Homo sapiens: one gene and its partner. The protein of the gene in region 1 purifies or fractionates together with the protein of each later gene. This does not show direct contact. Each region holds a gene or a part of one and is shown on either strand. Other genes may lie near its edges.

Evidence for each region. The genes of interacting proteins can lie anywhere in the genome.
Region 2: the proteins of EEFSEC (region 1) and RNF214 purify together in Homo sapiens (affinity purification with mass spectrometry; one large-scale study listed by BioGRID and IntAct). This does not show direct contact.

Annotation. Positions count from the first base shown.
Region 1 is NC_000003.12:128,341,981-128,345,480, reverse strand, and holds part of EEFSEC (selenocysteine-specific elongation factor), read right to left. Parts: intron 1-3,500. UniProt on the Homo sapiens protein: Translation factor required for the incorporation of the rare amino acid selenocysteine encoded by UGA codons. Replaces the eRF1-eRF3-GTP ternary complex for the insertion of selenocysteine directed by the UGA codon.
Region 2 is NC_000011.10:117,242,671-117,246,170, forward strand, and holds part of RNF214 (RING finger protein 214), read left to right. Parts: intron 1-1,774; coding exon 1,775-1,915; intron 1,916-3,500.

The DNA.
Region 1 (3,500 bases):
GCACGGTGGGGAAAGAAGAGCATAGGGCACTTCTCTGGCCCCTGCGCTGGATAACCACACCCATGAGCCTACCAGACTCTCAGCCCCTCCCTCTTCAACCAAAACTGTGTGGCTCCTGATAGGGACCAGGGGGATTGGCTCCTGTGCTTCAAAGAGAAATAATGGAGTCCCAGGGAAAAGAGTGGACCCACGCTCCAGGCATTATTATTTTGACTCTAAGAGCTTAAACATTAATAATGATAAAACAATAACGATGCAGTAGGAGACAAGCACTGATCTCAGAACCTTATGTGCAATCCCCCATCTCACCTTCATCTAACCCTGGTGCAGCACTGTGAAAATTCCCACTTAACATGGAAGTCTCATGGTCTGCTCAACTTTTCACACTAGCAGGTGGTAAGGCTGGGAGTAAATAAAGCCCAGGCTTGCACATTGGACCAGTCTGTCGGATGGCTGAGCCCCTGGTCAAGCAAGATGACCTGAAAATCTCTGGGTGATCTGGGGCCTACTCAAAGCAAACAGGGCTGCCCCTTTGGAACAAACTCAGCCAATCACTCAGGAGCTGCAACAGGAACACTACCTTCTTGCTTCACCTGATGAGAGTCGGCTCTTACATATGAAGCCACAAGCTATGGTGGCTCTTTCAAAACAACCTGATGAGGTCAAGACCATCCTTCGAAGGAATGAACAATTGAGATTAAATGGCTGCCCAAGGCGTACAGCTGTTTTGGGTACAGCAAGGGCTTGAGCCTACTCTGTATGATCTCCAAGTTCCACCTTACCAGGAAGGAAAGTCTCCCACCAAGGAGATTCGAGCTTTTCAAGAGAACGCAGACTCTTTTGACACACTGGGCAAGAATCTGTCTGACAAAGTGGAAATTTCATGACTCAAAAGAGACCAGCTAGTCCTGAGTTCAAACTCCAGCTTTACTACCCTGTGACCTTGGGCAGGTCACTTCACATTTCTTGGGCTGGTTTCCAGTCTGGCTGCCTTTGGGGAGGGGACCTGGGTTCGTAGGAAGAAAACTTCCTTACACTGAATAATTATTGTCTTGTTTGAAATTTTTTACCATGTGCATATATTACTTTTCCTAAATATTTGCACATAATTTGATTGATTTAATTGGGGAAAAATGTACATAGGAAAAATAATGACCTCTTCCTCAGGGTTATTAAACGGTTTCAAAATAAAGTATGTAGCTAGTAAAGGCGCATAGTATATGCTTAATCAGTAGAGTGGTGACAGAGTGGAGGGAGGCAGGAGGCAGGCTCATTCCTGCCCTGGGGCCCAGAGGAGAGCATGTGGCACAGAAGCCCCAGCCTACAGCCAGCCCCTAGCATTAAGGCAGGTGCCCATTCAGCTAGAGCCTCAGGGGGTTGCGAGTTGGGGGAGCTGCTCCTAGCCTGGGCACCCATGCCCTTTCCTCCCTTGTGGAGCCTCAGGAAGGCCTTCTTCCTCGACCAAAGCCCTGGGCTCATAGGATCTCACCTCTGCACACATCCACAGTCACCCTGTGAGGCTGTCCCTGGTTGGAGGAAGCCTGTCTCTGCTCAGGGTTGTCTATATGGGATTTGGACTCAGCTTCTGTGGACTGCCTACAGTTCTTGTGCTTCCACTTCCAGCCTCCCTGGACTGAGCAGGAAAATGCTGGTGGCCCCAGGTTGGTGGAAGGACATAGGCCAGGCATGTCTCCTGGCCCCTCCCTCAGCCCTTCGGAGGCATGAGTCATTGAGGCCATATGTTTACTTGCTCCTCACAGACCCTCCCTCCCAGTTCTCAAAGGAAGTGACTGCTGCACCGCTGTTGACAGGCCTGAGTGGGAGCAATTAGACCCAGGAGCCACACCAATTGGGATATTACTCTCTCATAGATATTTTACTATAGAATAATTATACTCCAAACACTGCTAATAAATCAGGCTAGACAAACGAGTGACACACACTTTATCACCTTCATCTTCAATCAGCATCTTGGGGCTGGCCTAAGGCTGATGGAGCCCTGAGCAGGCCCCAGCGGCCCCCCCGGAGCTAAGGGTCCAAGCTCTGGGTCTGAGGAAGGGAGAGGAAGGGGTTGCTCCTCAGTCCCCCACTTGAGGGCAGGTCTAGGTACAGGGGCAGGAAAAGAAGAGGGCCAGGGTGGAGCACCCAGGAAGAACCTAAGACAAGGAGAAAGGGAGGGGAAGGGGCTGCAGTGACAGAGAATTCCAGACGAGAAAACCAGTGGATTTTCTCCCAGAGGAGAAAACCTGTGGACGGAGACCTGGAGCGGAGGGTGGGCGATGGAAGCCCACCACATGTGACACCGTGGATGGGCCAGATGTTGTGCTGGCACCTGCACTAAACCCAGGGGACCTCATCAGGCTCCTGTGAGGAACTGAGGCCCTTGTTGAAAGCCTCAGGGCAGACCCCTCCTGCTAGGAGCCTGAGCCCCCGACAGTGGGGTTGCCAGCACTCCGTGCTCTTTAAGCCAGTCAAAGCCCAGTCATGTCCCAGTACAGCTGCTGCTGATCCGCTTGGACCCACAGCCAGGGAGCTAGCCTTCTAGAAGAGACGGCAAGGTTTGGCTGTCCATCCATCCTGCCTTCAAGGCCCGATGGGCATGGATTCCCACTCAGCACTGTGTGGACAGCTGCTGGGGATGGATGCCCCATGGGAGGAGGTGATTCCACTACTTTGGGGGAGACCACCGTGTTCTGTCCACCCTAGTGGCAGGCCCATCCCACCCAGCACTGGGCCCAGGTGCTGATGCACCACAGGACCAGCCGAGGGAGGCCCAGGGCCCAGTCAGAGTCTCCTGGGACAGAGCAGGCACCACCCTGAAAGCACAAGGCCAAGGGCCGCCCAGCAAGGCACAGCCAGGGCCTCATCCTACTTCAACTAGACTGGCTCACCTACATGCCTAAGGCCTGCATCTAGCGATGGTGAACTTCAGGCACCCTAGGTAGCCAGGGGCTGGACCTCCCACTGTGTCAGCTTCCTGTACCTTCCTTCCTCTTGCTCTCTGGCACCCTTAGCCCCTTCCCCTCAGTCCACAGGTGAGGAAAGACCTGGCCACCATTAGCCCCTTCCCCTCAGTCCACAGGTGAGGAAAGACCTGGCCTGGCACCACTGATGGGCAGTGTTTCCCTCTGGACATAAGCAGCTTGCAGGGGCACATGGGCAGATCCCAGCTGGATGGAGGTACAGTGCCCACCAAGGTCAAGAGAGTGGGGCCTGATCAGGGCAGCAGGCCAGGGAAGCCAGTGCTAACCGCTGCCATCTGACACTGGCTGTGGGGGAGCCCAGACCTGCTCAGACCCATGGGTGCCACATCTACCATGTAAATAAGTGGGGGTGGGATAGCTGGGTGGGATTGGGTACAGTGGGGGTCCCCCTGCCCAGGTGCTGGCCCTGGCTCTGTGACTGACCAGCTGAGAGAACTGTGGCCACCTGACCATTCTGGGCATCAGATGCCTTGTACAGAAACTACAGAGGTTGGCACCAGAAGGTCTCTGAGGGCC
Region 2 (3,500 bases), on another chromosome or scaffold:
GGCAAAACCCCATCTCTCCTAAAAATACAAAAATTAGCCGAACGTGGTGGCGGGTGCCTGTAATCCCAACTACTCTGGAGGCTGAGGCAGAGAGAATTGCTTGAACTCGGGAGGCGGAGGTTGCCGTAAGCCGAGATTGCACCACTGCACTCTAGCCTGGGCGACAGAGTGAGACTCTGTCTCAGAAAAGAATAATCTACTGGTTTCAACTTTTCTTTGGTTAAGATCCTCTTTCAGAATCTTTTGGAAACTTTGAATTCTTATCTCAGAAAAATATATACATTCATCAGTTGCAGAGAGTTCAAAGATTCCGGGGTCCACCTGTAGAAGCCAGGTTCAGAATCCCTGGAAAGGTGTGATGCTGAGTAATCAGCTGTTTGGGACACATTAGTCACATTTCAGTACATGGACTAAAGATTAGCTTGTCCCAAAGCCAAGGTCCTATCTTGAGAGCCTTTTTTATTAATTAATTAATTAATTTATTTATTTATTTTGAGACGGAGTCTCGCTCTGTCACCCAGTCTGGACTGCAGGGGCACAGTCTCTGCTCACTGCAACCTCTGCCTACCAGGTTCAAGTGATTCTCCTGCCTCAGCCTCCCAAGTAGCTGGGATTACAGGCATGTGCCACCATGCCTGGCTAATTTTGTATTTTTAGTAGAGATGGGATTGCACTGTGTTGGCCAGGCTGGTCTCGAACTGCTGACCTCAAGTGATCCACCCGCCTCAGCTTCCCAAAGTGCTGGGATTACAGGCGTGAGCCACTGCGCCCAGCCTTGAGAGCCTTTTGTTAAAATGATTATAATAGGATATTTTCCTCATTTGTTTTAAAAATTTTTTTTCTTTGAAAATGGTTATTATTTAATGAAAAAATTCAGTTTAGTGCTCTCAGTTTAAATATTATATGGGCTACTTCATACTAAATGTGTTTTAAGTTGACCCTCTTCAAATTTTAGTGTCCCTTTGAAAGGTAACCATTGATTTTCTTGATTTACTGACATGGGGGTGGCAGAGCTAAACTGTTTTCAGAAGCACTTCTATTTATTTATTTATTATTGTTATTTTTTGGTAGAGACCAGGTATTACTATGTTGCCCAGGCTGGTCTTCAGCTTCTGGCCTCAAGCAGTCTTCCTGCCTTGGCCCCTCAAAGCTGAGATTATAGGCTGGAGCCACCGTGCCTTGCCTAGGAGTCTCTCTTCTAATCCCGACTTTATATGAAAGCTTGCTGAGTTGTTCAGTCTGAATACCAGGTTCCCAGGCCTCTTTAGTGGATCCATCAGTTTTCAGTGTTGTTAACCAGTAAGGAATCATGTTCCCGGACGCTTTTTTGAGACAGAGTCTTGCTCTGTCGCCTAGGCTAAAGTGCAGTGGCACGATCTCAGCTCACTGTAACCTCTGCCTCCCAGGCTCAAGCGATCATCCCACCTCAGCCTCCCAAGTAGCTGGGACTACAGTGGAGTACTGGCATGCCCAGCTAATTTTTGTATTTTTTTAGAGTCCAGGTTTTGCCATGTTGCCCAAGCTGGTCTCGAATCCCTGAATGCAAGTGATCCGCCCGCCTCAGCCTCCCAAAGTACTACAGTTATAGGTGTGAGCCACCATCCCCAGCCAATCTCATCATATTTTACTGAATATAGCCACATATGGCTAGTAGAGTAGCTTCATTATTGGATAGTGCGGTCATAGAGCTCTATACAATGCCTTGGACAGGCACTGGTGAATGTTTCTTGTGATTAAATTAGGAAATAAGCTTTTCTTGTCTTGTTCATAATAGGATAAAATGATGACAGAGAGAACCCTGTTGAAAGAGCGTTACCAGGAGGTCCTGGACAAACAGAGGCAAGTGGAGAATCAGCTCCAAGTGCAATTAAAGCAGCTTCAGCAAAGGAGAGAAGAGGAAATGAAGAATCACCAGGTATTTTGCTTATATTGAAATTGTCAATGAGTTAAGCAACAGTCTCTGATCAAACTTTAATTTTTTAAAAAACTTTATTTATTTATTTATTTATTTTTGAGACAGAGTCTCACTCTGTCACTCAGGCTGGAATGTGGTAGCATAATCTTGGCTCACTGCAGCCTCTGTCTCCTGGGCTTAAGTGATCTTCCCACCTCAGCCTCCCAAGTAGCTGGGAACACAGGTGTGTGCCACTATGCCTGGCTCATTTTTTGTATTTTTGGTAGAGACGGGGTTTTGTCATGTTGCCCAGGCTGGTCTTGAACTCCAGACTCAAGAAATCCACCCGCCTTGGCCTCCGAAAGGAGGCCTTTTTATTTCAGTTAACTCAAAAATAAAATTAAAGTTTGAGCCATCCATGCCCGGCTCAAACTTTAATTTTATTTTTGAGTTAATTGAAATAAAAAGGCAAGGCGGGGTGTGGTGGCTCACACCTGTAATCCCAACACTTTGAGAGGTTGAGGCGGGTGGATCAGTTGGGTCCAGGAGTTCGAACCAGCCTGGGCAACATGGCAAAATCCCATCTTTACCAAAAATACAAAAAATGAGCCGGGCGTGGTGGTGTGCACCTGTGGTCCCAGCTACATGGGAGGCTGAGGTGGGAGGATCGCTTAAACCCAGGAGGCAGAGGTTGCAGTGAGCCGAAATTGTGCCACTGCACTCCAGCCTGAGTGACAGAACGATACCCTGTCTCAAAAAAAGTATTAATACTCATAGACTTTTTTTTTTTTTTGAGACGGAGTCTCGCTCTGTCACCCAGGCTGGAGTGCAATGGCACAATCTCGGCTCACTGCAAGCTCCGCCTCCTGGATTCACGCCATTCTCCTGCCTCAGCCTCCCAAGTAGCTGGGACTACAGGCGCCCGCCACTACGCCCGGCTAATTTTTTGTATTTTTTTTAATAGAGACGGGGTTTCACCATGTTAGCCAGGATGGTCTCGATCTCCTGACCTCATGATCCACCTGCCTCGGCCCCCCAAAGTGCTGGGATTACAGGCGTGAGCCACTGCGCCAGACCACTCATAGACTTTTAATAAAGAATGTTCGGATAAATTAGATACATCCATATGTTATGCAGCTATTTTTGAATTAGATCGATACTTATTGACAATACATTCATGTCAAGTAAAAGAAATCAGAATGCAAAATAATGTATGTAAAATGACCCCATTTAAAAATAACAACAACAACAACAACAAAGAAATGCATACCTAAGTATACATGTCTTTGTGTGAGCATAGAGAAAGATGTGAAAGCATAATACAAAGCAGTTAACACATTGATTACTCTTATGGGTGGAAGTGGTATGAAGTGGGGGAGTGACTCTTTATCACCTTTGTATTATTTTACTTTTTTTTTGATACTGGATCTTGTTTTGTTGCCCAGACTGGAGTGTAGTGGGTACAATCAAGGCTCACCGTATCTTTGACTTTCTGGGCTCGAGCTATCCTTCCACCTCAGCCTCTCGAGTATCTGGACTACAGGCATGTGCCACCACACCTGGCTAATTTTTTTTATTTTTTGTGAGACAAGATCTCTGTATGTTG